3 linked regions of the Homo sapiens genome follow. The protein of the gene in region 3 purifies or fractionates together with the protein of the main gene of each other region. This does not show direct contact. Each region holds a gene or a part of one and is shown on either strand. Other genes may lie near its edges.

The links.
Region 1: the proteins of SETDB1 (region 3) and FAF2 purify together in Homo sapiens (affinity purification with mass spectrometry; 5 studies listed by BioGRID and IntAct, with this or other methods). This does not show direct contact.
Region 2: the proteins of SETDB1 (region 3) and SUV39H1 purify together in Homo sapiens (affinity purification with mass spectrometry; 4 studies listed by BioGRID and IntAct, with this or other methods). This does not show direct contact.

What each region holds. Positions count from the first base shown.
Region 1 is NC_000005.10:176,443,996-176,451,384, reverse strand, and holds the start of FAF2 (FAS-associated factor 2), read right to left. Parts: upstream 3,001-7,389; 5' UTR 2,978-3,000; coding exon 2,915-2,977; intron 1-2,914. UniProt on the Homo sapiens protein: Plays an important role in endoplasmic reticulum-associated degradation (ERAD) that mediates ubiquitin-dependent degradation of misfolded endoplasmic reticulum proteins.
Region 2 is NC_000023.11:48,692,831-48,699,733, forward strand, and holds the start of SUV39H1 (histone-lysine N-methyltransferase SUV39H1), read left to right. Parts: upstream 1-3,903; 5' UTR 3,904-3,954; coding exon 3,955-3,973; intron 3,974-6,071; coding exon 6,072-6,217; intron 6,218-6,903. UniProt on the Homo sapiens protein: Histone methyltransferase that specifically trimethylates 'Lys-9' of histone H3 using monomethylated H3 'Lys-9' as substrate. Also weakly methylates histone H1 (in vitro).
Region 3 is NC_000001.11:150,921,936-150,929,681, reverse strand, and holds the start of SETDB1 (histone-lysine N-methyltransferase SETDB1), read right to left. Parts: upstream 3,320-7,746; 5' UTR 3,165-3,319; exon of another isoform or gene 3,138-3,164; intron 1,979-3,137; 5' UTR 1,968-1,978; coding exon 1,708-1,967; intron 1-1,707. UniProt on the Homo sapiens protein: Histone methyltransferase that specifically trimethylates 'Lys-9' of histone H3. H3 'Lys-9' trimethylation represents a specific tag for epigenetic transcriptional repression by recruiting HP1 (CBX1, CBX3 and/or CBX5) proteins to methylated histones.

The DNA.
Region 1 (7,389 bases), on a different chromosome or scaffold from region 3:
AAAATTTTTTTTTTGAGACAGAGTCCCGCTCTGTTGCCCAGGCTGGAGTGCAGTGGCACGATCTTGGCTCACTGCAACCTCCACCTCCCGGGTTCAAGTGAGCCTCCTGCCTCAGCCCCCCTAGTAGCTGGGATTACAGGCACATGCCACCATGCCTGGCTAATTTTTGTATTTTTAGTAGAGACGAGGTTTTGCCATGTTGGCCAGGCTGGTCTCGAACTCCTGATCTCAGGTGATCCACCTGCCTCGGCCTCCCAAAGTGCTGGGATTACAAGCATGAGCCACCACACATGGTCTAAAATATTTTTCTTAAAAAAAGAGTTAATGTACATCAACTGCTGCTTGGTATAATGCTTGGCATCTAATAAGTTTCAACAACTGTTTGTTTAATGGCAGTCTGGATAATGAATCTGATCCAGCGATTGCTTATAGAATAGAAAAATGAAAGATGCATTTCCCTCAATAAATCCAATTTCATAAGGCAATCTTAATACAGCTCGAACCTGCTACCCACCTCTCTTCTAATAAAGATCTCCACAGTTTTGGCCGGGCGCGGCGGCTCACGCCTGTAATCCCAGCCGAGGAGGGCGGATCACGAGGTCAAGAAATCGAGACCATCCTGGCCAACATCGTGAAACCCCGTCTCTACTAAAAATACAAAAAATTCGCTGGATGTGGTGGCGCGTGCCTGTAGTCCCAGCTACTCGAGAGGCTGAGGCAGGAGAATCGCTTGAAACTGGAAGGCGGAGGTTGCAGTGAGCCGAGATCGCGCCACTGCACTCCAGCCTGGGCAACAAGAGCGAAACTCCGTCTCAAAAAAAAAAAAAAGATCTCCACAGAAGATAAAATGGAGGTTCCTATGCACTTTACTTCAGAAATGCTATCATAGATTTATATTCATGCTCTTCCAGTATGAGACTAAATATACCATAATTTATAACTCACATTACTTCATTGCACTTAAACCACATGTTAGCTTACCCCTGAAGAGTTCTAAGGGGTAAAATGGTCTGCCAAAGTTAAACAACACTCTGAAATTGGTGGTCTACCTGGAAGTGTAAGCTGGTTGTCTGTTTAACTCATTCTCTAATAATAATTTGCTGGGTCATCAATTCAATTTCTCTACCAAAAATTCCAATCAAATGTCAATTACATCTATGACAGCATTTTTCCATTTATACACTTCCAACACACTGCTCAATTTAAGAGGGGAAAAAATAACCACTTCAAAATTTATTATAGTGAAGTCTATTCAAGGAAATTGCAAAAAAGTGAGAACTCGCCAAAAAAATATTTATTTTCTCAGCATTTGCATTCCACACTCAACTGTACACTGAAATATAAGTTGCACAAGACAGAAGTCAGAAGCCTGGGAAGGGTTCTGGAAGATGGACATAGCTTTAAATCTGACACCATCATTTTCTAGCTGTGTAACCTAAGCATTTTATTTCTTAGTCCTGATACCCTTCATCTGTAAATCAGGGACTAGAACAGTATGAACCTCATAGGGTTGCTGTATTAAATGAGGTTATGTATGCTAAGTGTTTACAAAGTACTTACATCTGAAATAGTAAGTGGGATTCTACCTAGCAGCGCTGCGCACTAAGGTTCTTCATATAGTTGAATAAATGAATATTTACACATTTTATATAAGGAAATAAGTGTATCAATAACTTTAGGTCTATCCTAAGTCAAATTAATAGCAGAAAATACTATTTGGGGGCATTTTGCAGTCTACAAGGCCCTTCTAACATCCATATGTCCATTTGATCTCCCGAACATCCTCAGGAGGTAGATTTTTTTTTTTTTGAGACGGAGTTTCACTCTTGTTGCCCAGGCTGGAGTGCAGTGGCACGATCTCGGCTCACTGCAACCTCCGCCTCCCGGGTTCAAGCGAGTCTCCTGCCTTAGCCTCCCGAGTAGCTGGGACCACAGGCGTGCACCACCACGCCCGGCTAATATTTGTATTTTTAGTAGAGACGGGGTTTCACCATATTGGCCAGAGTGGTCTCGAACTCCTGACCTCGTGATTCGCTGGCCTTGGCCTCCCAAAGTGCTGGGATTACAGGCGTGAGCCACCGCTCCTGGCCTGGGGGTAGACATTTTTAAGACAGTCCTTTCAGAGATAAGGAAACTGGTAACAAAGTGCCAAGGTTACCCACCCTAGTGGTATCCTCCAACCATTCTCCAGCTCAGGGGTAAGTGATCAGTGGCAAATGTTCTTAATACAACATCTTGTATTAACATAACATTTCTGCAAGTTACCACCCTCCTCAAGCATAGTTAAGCACAGGAATCCAGGAATAAGCCAAAAGTAATAAATCCCGACAGACCACTGATGACACTTATCATCTTGCATTGTTTCCTCACTTGGTGTCCTCCCACACCTCTAGGGCGGGGACCAGATCTGTGTGTAGGTGCCCCCTCCCCGACCGGAACCCCCAACACGAAACCTGGTATCCAAGAGGCCCCAGTTTGTGGGAGTGTATGTGGAAATGGCATGGGATGCTGGCAGGAGGTTTTCCTGTCAGAGACCCGAAATGACGCCAACTCCGCGGTGGGGACTAAGCTTCTCCGGCAGATATAGACTCGTTGGGCGGAGAGGGTCCGACCGATAACCGGGCTGGGAAGGATGGCTGAGGACTGACGCCGCTAAGGCAAACCAGGGAAGCTGACACGCTGAGGGCACAGAGGCACAGACGAGGCGGGTCTGCCCGCAGCGATGGCTGGAAGGCTAGGGTCCAACAGAGGCTTGGGGGCCGGGGGAATCAGGGCAGTTGGAGTCTGGGGGGGAGGGGGCCGGCCTGCTGGTCTGAGAAGGATCTGAACCCAATCTGAGGAGGGTTCTGAACTCCTCTAGGGGCCTACTCCCCATCCCACGGAGGCATCTGCTGCACCGAGTACTCGCTGCTACCTGAAACTGCAGCAGCTTCTCTGTCTGCTCCTGGGTTAGATCCCGCTCCTCAGGCGCCGCCATTTTGCCGCCGCCTCTACGCTCCTGACCCGTCCGCACCGTCACCCGCCGGAACTGACCTCAGCCACAACCACATCCGGTCTGAACGGCCGCCGGCGCGCAACTGCGTCTGCGCGCGCTGGCCCACTAACCTCCCCCCGCCCCCCGCCACCTCTGGCCGCCGCCAGAGGGCGCCACGCTCGGGCCTATCCCGAACACTTCCGGAAATTGCCGAGGGACTGTCGGTACAAGTCGCTCTTACCATTTAGGCGACGAAAGGATCTGCTAAGATTAGGCGACGAAAGGAGACCTAAGATTCCAGTGCAGTCTTGCAGAGCCGAGAGGGCCCGAATGTGCCTCGAGAAGCTCCGGAGCATCCCGAATGGCATTCGGCTGATTTCGGCTGCTCTCTAACCATTTTCCGGCAACCTCAGATACTCTTGGAGGTTTCTCGGGAGACGCAGCCGTTCCGAAATACCAGCCTTTTGGTCGCTGGCCCCTGACCTAAAGTTTCCAAAAGCTCCTGACCATCTCTCGGGAGGTTCCGAAGGGCTCTGGATACTGGCGCGGCATTTCCGACGCCGCCTTCGAAGCGGAAGCTGTGGGCAGACTTCGGCCACCGTTCCATTGCCGCTTCGGGGTCACTTGCAGGAAGATCTGGACTCGGCTCCCCGGATCCTCGACCATTCATGGCGCCCCCAGTCGTCCGCACAGCTTGCCGTCCACCGCCGTGACTGCGGCGCTGGAACCCCGGCCCGGCATCTGCTTTTCCGTGCCTGGAGCCTTGTCTCTCCGCACTAGCGCTGCACTGGCCCCTTGTCTCTGTGACAGGCGAAGAAAGATCCCTGGACCGGGATTAGGAGACGCGGGTTCTAGTTGCCACCTTGCCAACTGCTGGACATCCTTGGGCAAACCACTTGGGCTCCATTTTGCCATTTGTTGAATGAGATTCCCCAAAAGCCCCTGACGTGCTGCCGCCGCCCCTTCTCCTCGAGGCAGTCCCCTGCCCTTCCCTTCTGCTGCTTACACTACCCTATCACCACCCCTCAATCTCTATCTTCCTCTGCACGTCCCTTGCCCCTTCTAGTCCGCCACCTCTCTTTAGATTTCCCGTTTTCATTTCCACCTCTCCCGCCGAACGCCTCCTCTGCCCACCTTCCAGAGAGGCCTGGGTCTGGTACACGCTTTTCCACTGACCACCTGTGTGATTCTCAGCAAGGCTCTCGGCCGCCTGCGCCCCACCCTCGTCCCCTTGCAGGGTTGATCCGGTGAGACAGAAAAGGCTTTGAGAGCTGGTTCTGTGAAGAGTACATGAAATTTTGGCTACTTCTTTCAGGACTTATCAGGTCTTACCAGGTCTGCACAAACCACGACGTCCTGGAAAAACAGCACATGGTACGCCCTAAAACACAACCCCCAAAAAGTGCTAATTGGAAAAACAAAACAAAACAAAACAAAAACCCTGCAAATTTGGATCTGCATATGAAATCTTTCCGTTTAAAAATGGTGTCGGCCGGGCTCTGTGGCTCACGCCTGTAATCCCAGCGCTTTGGGTGGCCGAGGCGGGCGGATCACTTGAGGTCAGGAGTTCGAAACTGGCCTGGCCAACATGGCGAAACCCTGTCTCTACTAAAAATACAAAAATTAGCCAGGGTTGGTGGCGCACGCCTGTAGTCCTAGCTACTCGGGAGGCTGAGGCAGGAGAATCGCTTGAATCTGGGAGGCGGAGGTTGCAGTGAACTGAGATTGCCCCACTGTACTCCAGCCTGGGCGACGGAGTGAGACTCCGTCTCAAAAATAAATAAATAAATAAATAATATGTCAATTAAGTAAAAACCCCCGAAGGTAAAATCGGAAGCAGATAGCTGCTACTCTATAGAGAATTTATTACAGCAGCTCAAAGCTCAAAGGAAACTCAGTGTTGTTCAATCTCACCAATAACGTTGGGTTCAGATAAACTAAATGAGGGTTGGCAAAGTCAGATGTCCTCAGGAATTGTGTAATTCTCACTTAAGATATATACTTGCCAGCAGGCATGGTGGCAAATGCCTGTAGTCCCAGCTACTCGGGAGGCTGAGGTGAGAGGACCACTTGAGGCCATGAGTTCAAGGCTGTTGTATGCTGTGATCACACCACTGCATTCCAGCCTGGGTAACATATTCTTTCAACAGACCTAATTTGTAGTTATATGAAACACCATTGAATATTTCTTCACTTCCTCAAAGAAAGTTACACTTTCTTTTTCTATCTTTCTGTTTTCTTCTTTCTTTCTTTCTTTTCTTTGAGACGGAGTCTTGCTCTATCGCCCAGGCTGTAGTGCAGTGGCCTGATCTTGGCTCACTGCAAGCTCTGCCTCCTGGGTTCATGCCATTCTCCTGCCTCAGCCTCCTGAGTAGCTGAGGCTTACAGGTGCCTGCCACCATGCCCGGCTAATTTTTTTTTTGTATTTTTAGTAGAGATGGGGTATCACCGTCTTAGCCAGGATGGTCTACGATCTCCTGACCTCGGGATCCGCCCGCCTCGGCCTCCCAAAGTGCTGGGATTACAGACGTGAGCCATCGCACCTGGCCCTGTTTTCTTCTTTCAATAAAGATTAGGTTACAAGAAATAATTCATTTGTTTAAAACTCTACTTTAATGTGTCTCCGTGTGGGGACAAAATATGAAAAGCCGGAGTGTCCATTCCCTGTCCAAAGGTGGTTTTTGGCCAGACGCGGTGGTTCATGCCTGTAATCCCAGCATTCTGGGAGGCCAAGGTGGGAGGATTGTTTGAGCCTAGGAGTTGGGGACCAGCCTAGGCAATATAGTGAGACTGCCTCTACCAATTTTTTTTTTTTTTTTTAATTAGCCAAGTGTGGGCCGGGCACGGTGGCTCACACCTGTAATCCTAGCACTTTGGGAGGCTGAGGCGGGCAGATCTTGAGGTCAGGAGATCAAGACCATTCTGGCTAACACAGTGAAACCCTGTCCCTACTAAAAATAAAAAAAAATTAGCCAGGCATGGTGGCAGATGCCTGTAGTCCCAGGCCGAGGCAGGAGAATCGCTTGAACCTGGGAAGCAGAGGTTGCGGTGAGCCGAGATCGTGCCACTGCACTCCAGCCTGGGCAACAGAGCGAGACTCTGTCTCAAAAAAAAAAAAAAAGTTAGCTGAGTGTGTTAGTACGCATCTGCAGTTCTACCTAGTTAGGATGCTGAGGCAGGGATGATCACTTAAACCCGGGAGGCAGAGGTTGCAGTGAGCCATAGTCATGACTGCACTCCAGCCTGGGTAACAGAGCAAGACCCTGTCTCAAAAAAACAAACAAAAACAAAACAAAACAAAAAACAGACGGTTTCTGCCTTTTAGCTGTGGAGGATGGCTTCCATGTATTGCCGGAACTGCCCATTTTTTTTTCAGAGCACAGACATTCTCACCCCCCCAAAAAAATGTGAGGTGATGCATATGTTCATCAGCTTGATTTAGCCATTCCACAAAGTACACATATTTCAAAACATCATGTCCTACATGATACATTTTATTTGAAAAACATCACATTGTACACCTTAAAAAGTAAAATATGCTAATTTGAAAAGAAAAACTCTACACATTTGGATTTCCATGTGAAATCCCCCCATTTAAAAATGGTGTTGGCCAGGCGCGGTGGCTCATGCCTGTCATCTCAGCCCTTTGGAAGGCCGAGGTGGGTGGATCATCTGAGGTCAGGAGTTCAAGACCAGCCTGGACAACATGGTAAAACCCCGTCTCTATGAAAAATAGAAAAATTAGCCAGGGATGGTGGCCCGCACCTGTAATCCCAGCTACTTGGGAGGCTGAGGCAGGAGAATCACTTGAACCTGGGAGGCGGCGGTTGCAGTGAGTCGAGATCACGCCATTGCACTCCAGCTTGGAAGATAAGAGTGAAACTCCGTCACAAAAAGAAAAAAAGAAAAAGGTGTGAACTAATTCAATTCAAAAAAAGGTGTCAATTTCAAGAAAATTACTCTGCAAGTCAACCAGAATTGGAAGAAGCCTCATAGCCTCTGTTTGCCATGGAAGAAGCAGACCTGGGAAGAAACTCAAACTTTTTTTTGATAAGTTCAAGATGAAGAGTGTGAAAAGTGTTACCAGTTATTGGCTTGCCTTTTCTTTTTTTTATTTATATTTATATTTTATTTTATTTTATTTTATTTTTTGAGACGGAGTCTTGCTCTTGTAGCCCAGGCTGGAGTGCTGTGGTGCAATCTTGGCTCACTGCAAGCTCCGCTTCCTGGGTTCACACCATTCTCCTGCCTCAGCCTCCCAAGTAACTGGGACTACAGGCGCCCGCCACCACACCCGGCTAATTTTTTTGTATTTTTAGTAGAGACGGGGTTTCACCATATTAGCCAGGATGGTCTCCATCTCCTGACCTCGTTATCTGCCTGCCTCAGCCTCCCAAAGTGCTTGGGATTACGGG
Region 2 (6,903 bases), on a different chromosome or scaffold from region 3:
GTGGGGAGGAAGATAAAGGTGAGGGAGACTCCAGAGAGGGCAGGCTTCTTCAGTCTGCAAGAGCAACGGAAGAATTTCTAGGTGGAAAGGGGAACTCCCCCAAGCTAGAGAAGGAGGGAGTCTCAGGTTTCCTTTAATTCATTATTCTTTACACCGCAACACCACTCCCCACCCCACCCTGACCAGGTCCCCAGATGGGCACTGAGTCTAGGAAGGATCCATCAGCATCATTTATCCCTACTCCCAGTCCCCCACAGAAATCTTAGAAATCCAGTGTTCTGGTTGGCCGGGCGCGGTGGCTCACGCCTGTAATCCCAGCACTTCGGGAGGCCGAGATGGGCGGATCATGAAGTCAAGAAATAGAGACCATCCTGGCTAACATGGTGAAACCTCATCTCTACTAAAAATACAAAAAATTAGCCGGGCGTGGTGGCACATGCCTGTAGTCCCAGCTACTCAGGAGGCTGAGACAGGGGAATTGCTTGAACCCGAGAGGCAGAGTTGTGGTGAGCTGAGATCACGCTACTACACTCCAGCCTGGGCAACAGAGCGAGACTCCGTCTCAAAAAAAAAATGTGGTATACACAATGGAATACTATTCGGCCATAAAAAACAATGAAATCATGTCTTTTGCAGCAACATGAATGAAACTGAAGGCCATTAATTTGAGTGAAACAACTCAGAAACAGAAAGACAAATACTGAATCTTTTCACTTGTAAGTGGGAGCTAAATAATGTGTACACATGGACATAGCATGTGGAATTATAAACAACAGAAACTTGGAAGGGTGGGGAGGTGGGAAGGAAGTAGATGATGAGGAAATTACTTAACGAGTACAATGTGCATTATTCAGGCTATGGATACAGTAAAATGCCTGACTTCACCACTACACAATGTATCCGTGTAACAAAATTACACTTGTGGCCTGGCACTGTGGCTCATGCCTGCAATCCCAGCACTTTGGGAGGCCAATGCACATTATTCAGTTGATGGATACAGTAAAATGCCTGACTTCACCACTACACAACGTATCCATGTAAAAAAATTACACTTGTGGCCTGGCGCTGTGGCTCATGCCTGTAATCCTAGCACTTTGGGAGGCCAATGTACATTATTCAGATGATGGATACAGTAAAATGCCTGACTTCACCACTACACAATGTATCTGTGTAACAAAATTACACTTGTGGCCTGGCATGGTGGCTCATGTCTGTAATCCGAGCACTTTGGGAGACCAAGGCAGGTGGATCACTGGAGGCCAGGAGTTTGAGACCTGCCTGGCCAACGTGGTGAAACCCCATCATCTCTACTAAAAATACAAAAATTAGCCAGGTGTGGTGGCACACGCCTGTAATCCCACCTACTCAGGAGGCAGAGGCAGGAAAATCGCTTGAACCCGGGAGGCAGAGGTTGCAGTGAACCGAAATCACGCCACTGCACTCCAGCCTGGGTGACAGAGTGAGACTCTGTCTCAAAAAAAAAATATTATATTTGTACCCAATAAATTTATATGAAACAATTAAATGCTTCTGAGATCTGGCTTAATGGTTGCTCAGCCTGCATTCTGGTTCCACATGTAGGTCTGCTTGTGAAAACTCATTACAGTGTTCACCCCTGGTCTGTGTACCCTTCTGTATTTGTGTTACACTCCAATCTGAGGTTTACATTACAATAGGTCAAACCTGTGAATAAAACCTTATATTGGCTCCGGCACTGGGCAACGCAGTAATCATTAAATTAATGCTGAATGAACAGACAACTGGCTGGGAGTGGGACACGGTAGCAATAAGATGGCCTCTTAACTTTTGAGGTCTCCTGAAAAAGTGCTAGTCCAGAATGATTCACTTTCCAGATGAGCAGGAGACACCCACCCCAAGGTCACTTACTGCAGGTTTTACAGACCAGTTTAAGAAACTGCCTAAGATCAAGTAATTTAGTAAATGGCAGAGCCTGGATATGAGTCCAGGTAGTCAGGCTCCAGAATCCAGACTTTTGCCCACTACTTTATAGTGTTTGGGGGCACTACTGGCGACAGACCCTTTTGTCTCCCTCTCAGATCCAGACAGGCAGAGGTCCTGTCTTAAATCACTCTTGTGGGTTGGACAGGTCTCCTGGACACCCGGGAGTGGGAGAGCCCTGCTGCCCGAGGAGACTGGGGGTACATGAGGATGAGCACCTGACTCTGCTCGAGAAGGAGTAAGGGAGGGAAGGGGATGCATGGTGGGACCTTCGCTCCTGTCTGTCCCCTCAGGGCAAGCTGGGGCTGACGGAACCTCAGACCAGCCAGTCACTTCTTAATGAGCTCACAGCTGGACTGGCAGGCAGACAGAATATCCGTTTGGTTAACTGTATAACTGTTTGGTTGACTACAGAACTCATGGAGTGACAGGGAGAAGGCGCAACTTGAGGACGTGACAGCGCAGTTTCCTGAACATCTAACTGAATGACAGCCTGCCTAGGACTGGCTGGGGCTGGTAGCCTGACAGTGGAAAAGACAGGCAGCCTCCTGAGGACCTTGCAGGCTGGCTGACTGATGGCCCGTGGTGCTACTGCCTGCCTGGGTGGCCGGATGTTGTGAATGACTATTGTCAGGAATCACAGCTGGCGGGGGAATGTCTAGATGTTATACTGTCTGGCACCGTGTAAAGGAGGGCCACCTGGGGAAACTTCAGGCTAACTGATCAACAGACCCGTGGCTGCTTGCTAGGCAGCTGTATCTGGTGATCAACTATCCACGCTGCTCGAATCACAGCATGCTGGAGGGCCTGGCTGGGTGCTCTGACTGACTGATCACCTGACAGACGGTGCGGTCAGTCGGATGCTGAGAATGACTGACGATGTGATGAGGGGCGGATTGAACGAGTCACAGGCCAGCTGGCCAGGAGCAAAATCGGCATAGCTGTCTGACTCGATGGCTGTACGTGGTTACGGACTGTCTGCCCTGATAGAATCTCAGCTTCAACGCATCAGAGGAGACTGACTTGACCAATGGTGGGGATGAGTCGCCTGAGAAATGACAGACTGGCTGACCCACTGACAGGTGGTGTGGAGGCTTAATCCTACCTCTAGTTGCTGTGACTATTTGCTTTGAGGGCCTAGCTGGATGTTGTGACTGATCGTGGTGTGAATGAGAAGTAATCTGAGGGAAAGACAGTGACCAACTGATAGTGCCCGACAGGGCTGTATTAGATGCTGACAGTGACAGCTTGTCCCGACCTAATCACAGCCCGCCTGGGGGCATGGCTGGATGCTGCAGTCTATGAGAGGATTTAGCCAGGGAGAATCGCAGCTGGTCCCAGGGCTATGGTGGGTGGAGAGGAGGACTGATTGATCTGCTGACAACGTGAGGACAGGATGGTCTTAGGGAATGATAAGGCAGGCTGGCTAACAGTGCTGTCTGCCTGCCTCCAGGGAGTCGCCGCTGGCCAGGGCACAAATGGAAGCCAGTATTGACTGCCCAGCAGTGTGGATGGGGGCCGGGAGTCTGACTAGGCACCTGTCTGGGGCGACCGCCTGAGCAGTTGGATACGGCACTAGTCCACCTGGGAGCCCCGGCCTGCTTGGGGTTAAAATGAGATGACGGGCTGACTGACGGTGATAACAGGGAGTATGACAGGACTGAGGAACCACTGCGACTGGCTGATAACGTGATTGGCTAGCAGTGTGACAGACAGACCAGCGCACGGGCAGGGCCTCTGGCAACTTTAGCTACCGCCGCTGTCGCTCCCGCTGCCGCCGCCGCCCAGACGCACTCTGGGAAAGCGCGGCGAGCACCCGCCTCCGGGACCGAGCCGGGCGGCAGGGAGGGGTTCGGTCACGGCTCTCCGGTTGGTCCGCGCGGGTGCTGCGAGTCGGGAGCCGCGGCCAATAGGCTGCGCGTTCCCGGCCACGCCCGCGCGAGCGCTCTTCTCGCGAGGCCGGCTAGGCCCGAATGTCGTTAGCCGTGGGGAAAGATGGCGGAAAATTTAAAAGGTGAAGCAGTGGAGGCAGAGGCGCGGGCCCGCTGGCCGGGCCGGGTGGGCTGGAGGGGTGGCGTTGCCGGCTCGGGGCCCCGGCGTCCGAGGCCCCGGCGCCGGGAGCCGGAAGCTCGGCGCGGAAAGGATGAGGCTCGGGGAGCGCGGGCCTGGTGCGCGGGGCTGGGCGGGGCTCAGGGGAGGGGGCGCGCGCCTCGGAACGCAGCGGGCCTGGGGCTAAGTGGGGACGCAGGAGGGGGGCGCGCGCTGCAGATCGCGGCCGGACCGGCGCGCGCACGCGCGGGGGCTTGTCGAGGAGGCCGCGCCCGCGCGCGGGAAAATCGGCCCCTGGTGACCGTTACCCATTCGGTGTCCACGCGAGACGCCGGAAGGGGAGGGAAGATAAGGGGGACAGACCCCCCCTTCAGAGTGCGGGGACTGAGAACTCTTCTGGGGGAAAGTATCGCCTCTCGGCGTGATGGGGGAAGGGTTTGGAATAGAGGATCTCCCAGAAGAGAGAAATGGGGCCTTCCTAATAGGACAGCTGGACTCCCCCATGTGCAGGGAAAGAGGGGTGACTCAGTTATGTTGGGGGGCCCCTCTATGTGACGAAAGCCGCAGGGAGGATGGGTTCCACAAGTGGGAGGACCTCTGAGGGGTTCAGGAGAGTCCACCTGTGGCCAGTTCCGGAGCCAGCAGCTGGAGGGTGTTAATTGGGACCACTTAAGTGGGGTTTCAAATGCAAGTGAAGGAAGGGGTTTGCGAGGACAGGCTGTAGGGAGAGGAAAGCGTGGGCACAGGCGGGCTCAGTCTCCACTTGGTCTTGCCTAAGTAGGGGGGGTAGGGCTTGCACACGAAATAATTTTGAAAAGCTCTTGTACGTTTTTAGGTTGACATCTAAAGTTTAGGTGTGATTTTTGCAATGGGAGGCAGAAAATATTAAACATTTTAAAAAGATGATATAGGATGAGGACTGACTGCCCTTGGAATGTTTTGAGACATGATTTGATAAAATGGCTTCTAAAGTACTTTGATTAAGAATGTGCCTTGAATCAGAAAGAAATCTGTTTTTTAAAATCCGTGTGTCTTACAAAATTTTGGCAGTCCCAGAAATATACCAGGTATATTTAAAAGAATCAGTGTCACTAATCTGTACCGCTTTGCGTATAAATTCAGAGCATAACCCTTTGGATGAGCTTTACTCTTCACAGAAAGATGGATGAGACAGAAAGTCAAAATGCAGTGTGAAAAAATATACCTTGTGGATTTAAGGCACCCAGATTGATCATTTAAGGAGCCTTCCTGTAATGTAGTATCATTCCACAATCTCTTGCTCATAATTCCGAAATCTAAAAAGCCCTGAAAACTGAAATCCTTTTCTTAAATTTGGCACCATTTATGGCAAAAGTAGATTATAAAGTGGAACTCTTCTGTGAGGCTATTTTATATCTCTATTTCTCCTATTTAATGTGGGAAATTCATACTTTTGCTGCAGGACGGTTAATGCATTTGATTATAGCTTGATGTCCCCTGGCCACGCTGGGGGTGTTAGGTGATGTATGGGATATCCTAGAACTAGTCTTGTAAAATCCAAAAAATTTTGAATTCCAAAACACATCTGGCCCAGGAGTTTGAGATAAGGGATTAAAGACCAGTCTTTCCAGTTACGCCTTTGTTTGGTGCCCTGGAGGTTTTAATCTTGTCCTCCCATCCGCCCCACCTCGGGGCACTGCATCCTACTGAGATGGGGGGTTGTTCTCTTTCTTTTGCAAAGTGGAGAGAGGGGTGATCAGGTCCTGAACCCAAAGCAGGTTTGCAGGCAGTTTTAGGAATGACATGGAGTTTGAAGCTCTGGAAATAGATTCCTTTAGGACAATTCATGTTGCAAACCCCGCTTAGAGGTCTGCTGCTCCAGGGGCAGCTTTGGGCAGTGAGTATTGGGGTTCAAAGCACATTTCTGTTGTAGAACAGTCTCAGCACTGGGGAAGGCCTGTGGATTAAATTTCCCTGACTCTTAGTCAGTCTTTGGGATGTCCCAGGGAGGATTTGGGGTCCCCTTTGACTCCTGGCCTAGTCAGGCTGCCCAGTAATAGTTCTTTCTGCCCCGCTTGATCCAGGCTGCAGCGTGTGTTGCAAGTCTTCTTGGAATCAGCTGCAGGACCTGTGCCGCCTGGCCAAGCTCTCCTGCCCTGCCCTCGGTATCTCTAAGAGGAACCTCTATGACTTTGAAGTCGAGTACCTGTGCGATTACAAGAAGATCCGCGTGAGTCTGGGGTGACCATGCTCTGGGAGGGGACAGGTCACAAGGAAGTTAGTGTCCTGCCCTCTTGTCCCCAACTGCCCACATCTGTTTCCAAAGGGAATTTTCTCCTTTGACCCTGAAAACACAGGATGAATAGACCCTTTTATCCCTATGTTACAGATAGGGAAACTAAGTAGCTTTCTGGGCAGGAGCCGGAATGAATTCCCAAATAAATCTCTTCCCATCTCCCTAGGAATACAAAGTAATTGCAGAGATTGAGATGCTGAACCCTGGAGTGGAAATGTCAATAGCTAATGGCTATTGAGCACTTTCAGTGTGCCAGGCGTTTCCTCTCGGAAACTCATTTAATCCCCTAACAACTGAAATGGGGATAGTTATTGCCAGAAGGGGGAGTGGCAGGATGGTTAGGAGAACAAACTGGAGTCAGCATGCTTGGGTTCCAGTCCTGGTTGTGTTACCCCAGGCTACCTACCCAAACCTTCAGTACTTCATTTTCCTTGTCGTAAAAGAGGGATAACTAGGAGCATCTACCTCATGTGGGGTTGTGAGGATTAAGTTAGTTAATAATACATGTAAGCTGCCTAGAACAGGCAAGGACTTGTCAGGGTCCAGGTGAGCCAGGGTGGTGGCAGTGATGATGGTTTGTCACTGGACGTATTTTGAAGGTGGGGCCAACGGGATGTGCA
Region 3 (7,746 bases):
GGCTGGCAGTGGTGGCTCACACCTGCAATCCCAGCAATTTGGGAGGCTGAGGCAGGTAGATCACTTGAGGTCAGGAATTTGACCTCCCCAGCCTGGCCGACATGGTAAAACTCCATCTCTACTAAAAATACAAAAATTAGCCGGGTGTGGTGGCACACGCTTGTCGTCCCAGCTACTCCGGAGGCTGAGACAGGAGAGCTGCTTGAACTCGGGAGGCGGAGGCTGCAGTGAGCCGAGATCACGTCACTGTACTCCAGCCTGGGTGAGACAGAGCAAGTCTCTGTCTAAAAAAAAAATAAAATAAAATAAAAATAAAATAAAAAAATGCTCATTATCAGTGGCCATCAGAGAAATGCAAATCAAAACCACCATGAGATACCGTCTCACACCAGTTAGAATGGCGATCATTAAAAAGTCAGGAAACAACAGGTGCTGGAGAGGATGTAGAGAAACAGGAACACTTTTACACTGTTGGTGGGACTGTAAACTTGTTCAACCATTGTGGAAGACAGTGTGGCGATTCCTCAAGGATCTAGAACTAGAAATACCATTTGACCCAGCAATCCCATTACTGGGTATATACCCAAAGGATTATAAATCATGCTGCTATAAAGACACATGCACACGTATGTTTATTGCGGCACTATCCACAATAGCAAAGACTTTAAACCAACCCAAATGTCCATCAATGATAGACTGGATTAAGAAATGTGGCACATATACACCATGGAATACTATGCAGCCATAAAAAAGGATGAGTTCATGTCCTTTGTAGGCACATGGATGAAGCTGGAAACCATCATTCTGAGCAAACTATAGCAAGGACAGAAAACCAAACACCGCACGTTCTCATTCATAGGTGGGAATTGAACAATGAGAACACCTGGACACAGGATGGGGAACGTCACATACTGGGGCCTGTCGTGGGGTGGGGGGAAGGGGGAGGGATAGTATTAGGAGATATACCTAATGTAAGTGACACCAACATGGCACATGTATACATATGTAATAAACCTGCACGTTGTGCACATATACCCTAGAACTTAAAGTATAATAAATTTAAAAACAATGTATTCTAAGTGACAACTAGAGCACCAGAAACAAATCTTTTGGGGGTATGGGAACTTACTAATGCTTCAGAGTTACGTAAGACAGAAATTCTTTACAATCCTCACTCCCTGGATGATCTTACTAGGGAAATGAAGCAATTGTTCTAAGATAGAGCACAGGAGGAAGAAGGGGAAAGGACTTAAGACTTGGACTCCCTTACTGCTGATCATGTATTAGCTGCTGACAGATGAAAATTATATTTACGGCTGATTGTAAGGTCAGATTTTTGACCATAAACTTTGAGGAAGAGTAAGGTTCTAAACATCTGTACTTCATAAAGTATAAAATGTTTGGTACACAGCCTGGCCAACATGGTGAAACCCTGTCTCTACTAAAAATATAAAAAATTAGCTGGGTGTGGTGGCGGATGCCTATAATTCCAGCTACTCGGGAGGGGGAGGTGGGAGAATCACTTGAACCCGAGAGGTGGAGGTTGCAGTGAGCCAGGATCACTCCACTGCACTCTAGCTTGGGTGACAGAGCGAGACTCCGTCTCAAAACATAAAATAAAATGCTTGGTTCAATGTCATGAACAATTATTCTCTAAAAACATCTCCCAATGGAGAGATTTCCTTCTATTTTCCATGGAGTTCTCACCTGGATGCATCATCAAAGAGTTGGTCAACGTGAGCCACCTCAGATTCTTTCTGTATTACCCATGTCTCTAACTCTGCTAGCTGCTTCTTGCGTTGCTGTACACAATCCATCTTCTCCAGTTCCTCATCGATGAAATGCCGAAGTTCCTCCATAGAGATACCCAGTTCCTCAACCACTGCCTGTTGCAGCTCTGCAATCTCTTCAGACTCCACTGTAGCTGTTGCTGCATCCAAACCAATGCACCCAGGAAGGGAAGACATGCTTTTGTCCTCTGCATGGAACAGAAAACAAATTAAATTGGAGTCCTTATAACTACAATCAATCAATAGAGAATTTCAGTTCCCTAATAAAACTAATTCCTACTCTGCTGCCTGTTATTCTATTCAAATATTCCATGTTCTCCCTCCCTATTCTCCAGAATCTGATGCTGAGATTTTTAAGAGTTCTTATCTTCTGCTGTACGCTAACACTCCTGAAAAAGATTTAAGAGTTTGAGACGGCATGGAGAACATTCATTAAGCAGTAGAGAGCTACTGAAAATAATGTTTTGGGCTGGCACAGTGGCTTACACCTGTAATCTCAGCACTTTTAGAGGCCGAGGCAGGAGGGTCGCTTGAGGGCAGGAGTTCAAGACCAGCCTGGGCAACATGGCAAGACTCGTCTTTACAAAAAAATACAAAAATTAGCCACGTGTGGTGGTGCACGCCTTTAGTTCCAGCTACTCAGGAGGCTGAAGTGGGAGGATCGCTTGAGCCCAGGAGTAGCTGCTGTAGTGAGCTATGTTCGCGCCATGCATTCCAGCTTGGGTGACAAAGTGAGACCCTGTCTCAAAACAAACCGAACTTTAAAAATAATCTTTTGGGATACTGAAGAGAACCAATCTATAAGATATTTTTGTGGTCTATATGTGTTCCTTAACTAATGTGATAAATCTTTGTATGCTATGCCTAATTTAAACAAAACCCCACCTGGGGATGGAGTTGATTTGGAACTCACTAACTCAGTGTTTTCTCTTTCATTACTTGTTCCCCTTATATTACTTTGCTTCCATGTGGAATTTTACTTTTTAAAAAGTCTATGATATTCAAACACACGAAAGCTTGCAGCAAAAAGGTTTCCCCCAAAGTACAGAGAAGTAAAGCAACCTGGGAATAAAACGTGGGTACCTAATATCCACAATCCAAATACTTCACACATTCGTGTGAACTGCTTTTTTAATCAAACGGTTAAAGAAAATCTGATTTTCAGCGCCTCCATTTTCCTCTGCCCACACACCAGCCCACCCCCGTGCTACCCATTCTAGGGGTGCGTCCTACCCATTCGCAAACCCAGTTCAGCCCCGCCCCCGTTCGCCTCTGGGGAAGACTTCCTTCCCACCCTCGCCCGACCCCCTCCCACAAACAAAACGTCCCAGATAAGCCTTTGGTCACCAAATAACTCAACAGTATTCCCCGCACCTCCCGTCTTCCAGCTTCAAGGGCTCTTTTTCACCAACCAGACCCCAGACTCACAACTCAGGGGTCGGCCTCGACGGAAAAGAGCGAAAGCGAAGGGATAAGGGAGGAGGGGGAGGGGAGGAAGCGTGAAAGAGGGAAGGGGAAGCAAAAGAAACGCCCGGAAGCAAACCTTTAGTGCCGTTCCGGTCACCGCGACGGTAGCCTGACGGGGTCAAATCCAAAGCCGCGGGGCGCCCCTCAGAGGCGACGAAAACTAAGGTAACTACGCATGCGTTAAGGCAGAGCCTTCCAGGGGCACACGTGAGAAGAGACTGGCAGGGCAGAGTAGGCGTGGCCAGTATATTACCGAGTCTCCGCCGCTCCTACCACCCTCGACTAGTGGCCCCATTACTATATTCATTGTGTAAAGACTTAGGGAAACGCTCATAGGTTCAGAGCTTTATTCTCTCAGTTTTACTTGAGTTTGTTTTGTTACATAAGTGATACAAATTGTAAAGGCTATCAAGATGTAATAAGAAAAACGTGATAATATTCTCTCTTGCCCCATCACCACTCCGCTCCTTTCAGGTAATACAGCTTCATTTTCCAGTCTTGTATGTACGAGTTTCTGTATTTGGATTTTTGTTGTTTTCATTTAACATGTGGACATTACCTGAAGCCAATAAAAAAGGTAAAACTTGTATTTTTGGCCGGGCGCGGTAGCTCACGCCTGTAATCCCAGCACTTTGGGAGTCAGAGGCGGGCGGATCACGAGGTCAGGAGATGGAGATCATCCTGGCTAACACGGTGAAACCCCGTCTGTACTAAAAATGTTAGCCGGGCGTGGTGGCGGGCGCCTGTAGTCCCAGCTACTCGGGAGGCTGAGGCAGGAGAATGGCGTGAACCCGGGAGGCGGTGCTTGCGGTGAGCGGAGATCGCGCCACTGCACTCCAGCCTGGGCGACAGAGCGAGACTCCGTCTCAAAAAAACCAAAAAAAACAAAAAAACAAAAAACCAATAACTTGTATTTTTGACACCTGAATAGTTTAGATTGTTTAGATTGTTTTCCGTTCTCAGCCCCGACAAATAGCGCAACAATAAAAATAAACATCCTTTTGAAGTAGTACTTTTATTTCTGTAGAAAAGATTCCCCAGGCCGGGCGCTTTGTGTCCGAGGCGGGAGGATTGCTAGAGCCCAGGAGTTCCAGACCAGCCTGGGCAACACGGCGAAACGCCATCTCGACTAAAAATACAAGGTAAAAAAAAAAAAAAAAAAGCCAGGCGTGGTAGTTCGCGTCTGTGGTCCCAGCAACTCCGCAGCTGAGGCGGGGGGAGGATCGCTTGAGCCCCGGTGGCAGAGGCTTCAGTGAGAGGAGATCGCGCCACTGCACTCCAGCCTAAGTGACCGAGCGAGACTCCGTCTCAAAAACAAAACAAAACAAAAAACAAAAAGAAAAGATTTCCCAAAATGGAATTTGAGTAAAATAATATGTGCTTTTTTCCTTTTTTTTTTTTTTTTTTTTTTTTTTGAGAAGGCGTTTCGTTCTATCGCCCAGGCTGGAGTGCAATGGCGCGATCTTGGCTCACTGCAACCTCCACCTCCCGGGTTCAAGCGATTCTCCTGGCTCGTCCTTCCGAGTAGCTGGGACTACAGGCGCGTGCCACCACGCCCGCCTAATTTTTTGTATTTTTAGTAGAGACGGGGTTTCACCGTGTTAGCCAGGCTGGCCTCGTCACACCTCGGCCTCCCAAAGTGCTGGGATTACATACAGGTGTGAGCCACTGCGCCGAGCCTTCCTTTTTTTGTTTGTTTGTTTGTTTTTGAGACTGAGTTTCGCTCTTGTCACCCAAGCTGGAGTGCAATGGTGCGATCTCGGCTCACTGCAACCTCCACCTCCCGGGTTCAAGCAGTTCTCCTGCCTCAGCCTCCCGAGTAGCTGGGATTACAAGCCCCTGCCACCACACCCGGCTAGTTTTTGTATTTTTGGTGGAGACGAGGTTTCGCCATGTTGGCCAGGCTGGTCTCAAACTCCTGACCTCAAGTGATCCACCCGCCTCGCCTCCCAAAGTGCTAGGATTACTTACAGGCGTGAGCCACTGCTCCCGGCCCTTTCTTTCTTTTTCTTTTCTTTTCTTTTTTTTTTTCTGAGACAGAGTCTCGCTCTGTCGCCCAGGCTGGACTGCAGTGGCACGATTTCGGCTCACTGCAACCTCCACCTCCTGGGTTCAAGCGATTCTCCTGCCTCAGCCTCCTGAGTAGTTGGGACTACAGGTGCGTGCCGCCACGCCTGGCTAATTTTTTGTATTTTTAGTAGAGACGGGGTTTCACTGTGTTAGCCAGGATGGTCTCAATTTCCTGACCTTGTGATCTGCTCACCTTGGCCTCCCAAAGTGTTGGGATTACAGGCATGAGCCACCTCGCCAGGCCTTTTTTTTCCTTTTTTTTTTTGAGACGGAGTCTCGCTCTGTAGCCCAGGCTGGACTGCAGTGGCGCGATATCGACTCACGCAAGCTCCGCCTCCCGGGTTCCGCCTCCTGGGCCTCCCAAAGTGCTGGGATTGGGATTACAGGCGTGAGCCACCGCAACCGGCCTTTTTTTTTTTTTTTTTTTTTTTTTTTTTTTTTTTTGAGACGGAGTTTCATTCTCGTTGCCCAGGCTGGAGTGCAATGGCTGGATCTCGGCTCACCACAGCCTACCTACGCCTCTGGGTTCTCCTGCAACAGCCTCCCGAGTAGCTGGGACTATAGGTGCCCACCACCACGCCCAGCTAATTTTTATATTTTTAGTAGAGACGGGGTTTCATCATGTTAGCGAGGCTGGTCTCGAACTCCTGACCTCAGGTGATCCACCCACCACCTCAGGTGATCCACCCACCACCTCAAGTGATCAACCTGCCCTGGACTCCCAAAGTGCTGGTTTTATAGCGGTGAGCCACTGCACCCGGCCATTCTCCTGCCTCAGCCTCCCGAGTAGCTGGGACTACAGGCGCCCGCCACCACGCCCGGCTAATTTTTTGTATTTTTAGTAGAGATGGGGTTTCACCGTGTTAGCCAAGATGGTCTCGATCTCCTGACCTCGTGATCTGCCCCCCTCGGCCTCCCAAAGTGCTGGGATTACAGGCGTGAGCCACCGCGCCTGGCCTTTTTTTTTTTTTTTGAGACAGAGTTTCATTCTTGTTGCCCAAGCTGGAGTGCAATGGCAGGATCTCGGCTCACCACAACCTACGCCTCTGGGGTTCAAGCGATTCTCCTGCCTCAGCCTCCCCAGAGGCTGGGATTACAGGCATGCACCACCACGCCCGGCTAATTTTGTATTTTTAGTAGAGATGGGGTTTCTCCATGTTGGACAGGCTGGTCTCAAACACTCGACCTCAGGTGATCCGCCCGCTTCGGCCTCCCAAAGTGCTGGGATTATAGGTGTGAGCCACTGCACCCGGCCCCTTTTTTTCCATTTTAATAGAATCTGCGGTCAAATTACCTTTCTAAAAGGTTGTAACAATTATTACTCTCACTAGCAAATCTGAAAGTGTTTCCCCACACCCCTATTAGTACTGGGTGTTAACTACTTAATTTTTAAGAACTTGATATGTATTAAAATAGTATCAGTATCAGGATAGACTAGGTTATGTTGTGGAAACAACTCCAAAATCTGAGTGGCTTAAAAGAAAAAAAAAAGGCGTGTTTCTTGCTCACACTACATAATCATCTCTGGAAGGTATGGTGGGGCTCTGCTAATGATAGCTACTGGGGAAACCCACACTGATGAGTAGTAATACCAGAGGGAAAGAATGCTAGAGGGACTCATATTAACAAAATGACTCAAGACACTGATTTTTACAACTCATTGACCTGAATGAATCACAAAGTCCTACACAACCACCAGGGGGCCAGGAAGAGCAGTTATCTTACCTCTGGGAGGAGGGAGAACCTGGTGTGTCTGATGAACCAGCTTTATTGACTACCACAGCGTCTTATCATTGCTTTAATTTGTTCATGTGTCTTTACACTAACTGTACTAGTTATTGAATCTACATTTCATTTAAAAAGTACAAACCAGAACCTTGTGTGTGAGGCTGGAAACACAGCCCAAGCGCCAGAACTGCCAAGTCCTTGAAATTCTCTCTTGTTGACCACATTTTCACCTGTGCTCATTTCACCTGCTCAACAGTTTCCTGGGACCACCCTAAGTGCCTATTTTCAATTAAGACAGCAGAAATTGAGGTGTGGAGAAGTGAAGGGTTCCTCCAGATAATTGAAATTCATCATGTTCTAAACTCATTTCATTATGGTATCACCTAACCTGAGCTAAAAATTTTAGACATACTACTCCCTAAACACACACACACACACAATATTTGTTGAATACTTGCTACATACCAGGAACTGTTCTAAGCACTTGCCAGTTATTAATTCATTTAAACTTCACAATTATCCTATGGGGTAAGAACTAATATTATTGTCCCTTTTTTATAGATGAGAAAACAGAGGCACAGAAATAAATTTCCCAAAGCTACACAGCTAAAAAGTGACAGACCCAGGCAGTTTGGCCATACACTTGGTGGTCTTGAACCATCATTCAGTGTAGCTTGTTTCCTCTTCTTTC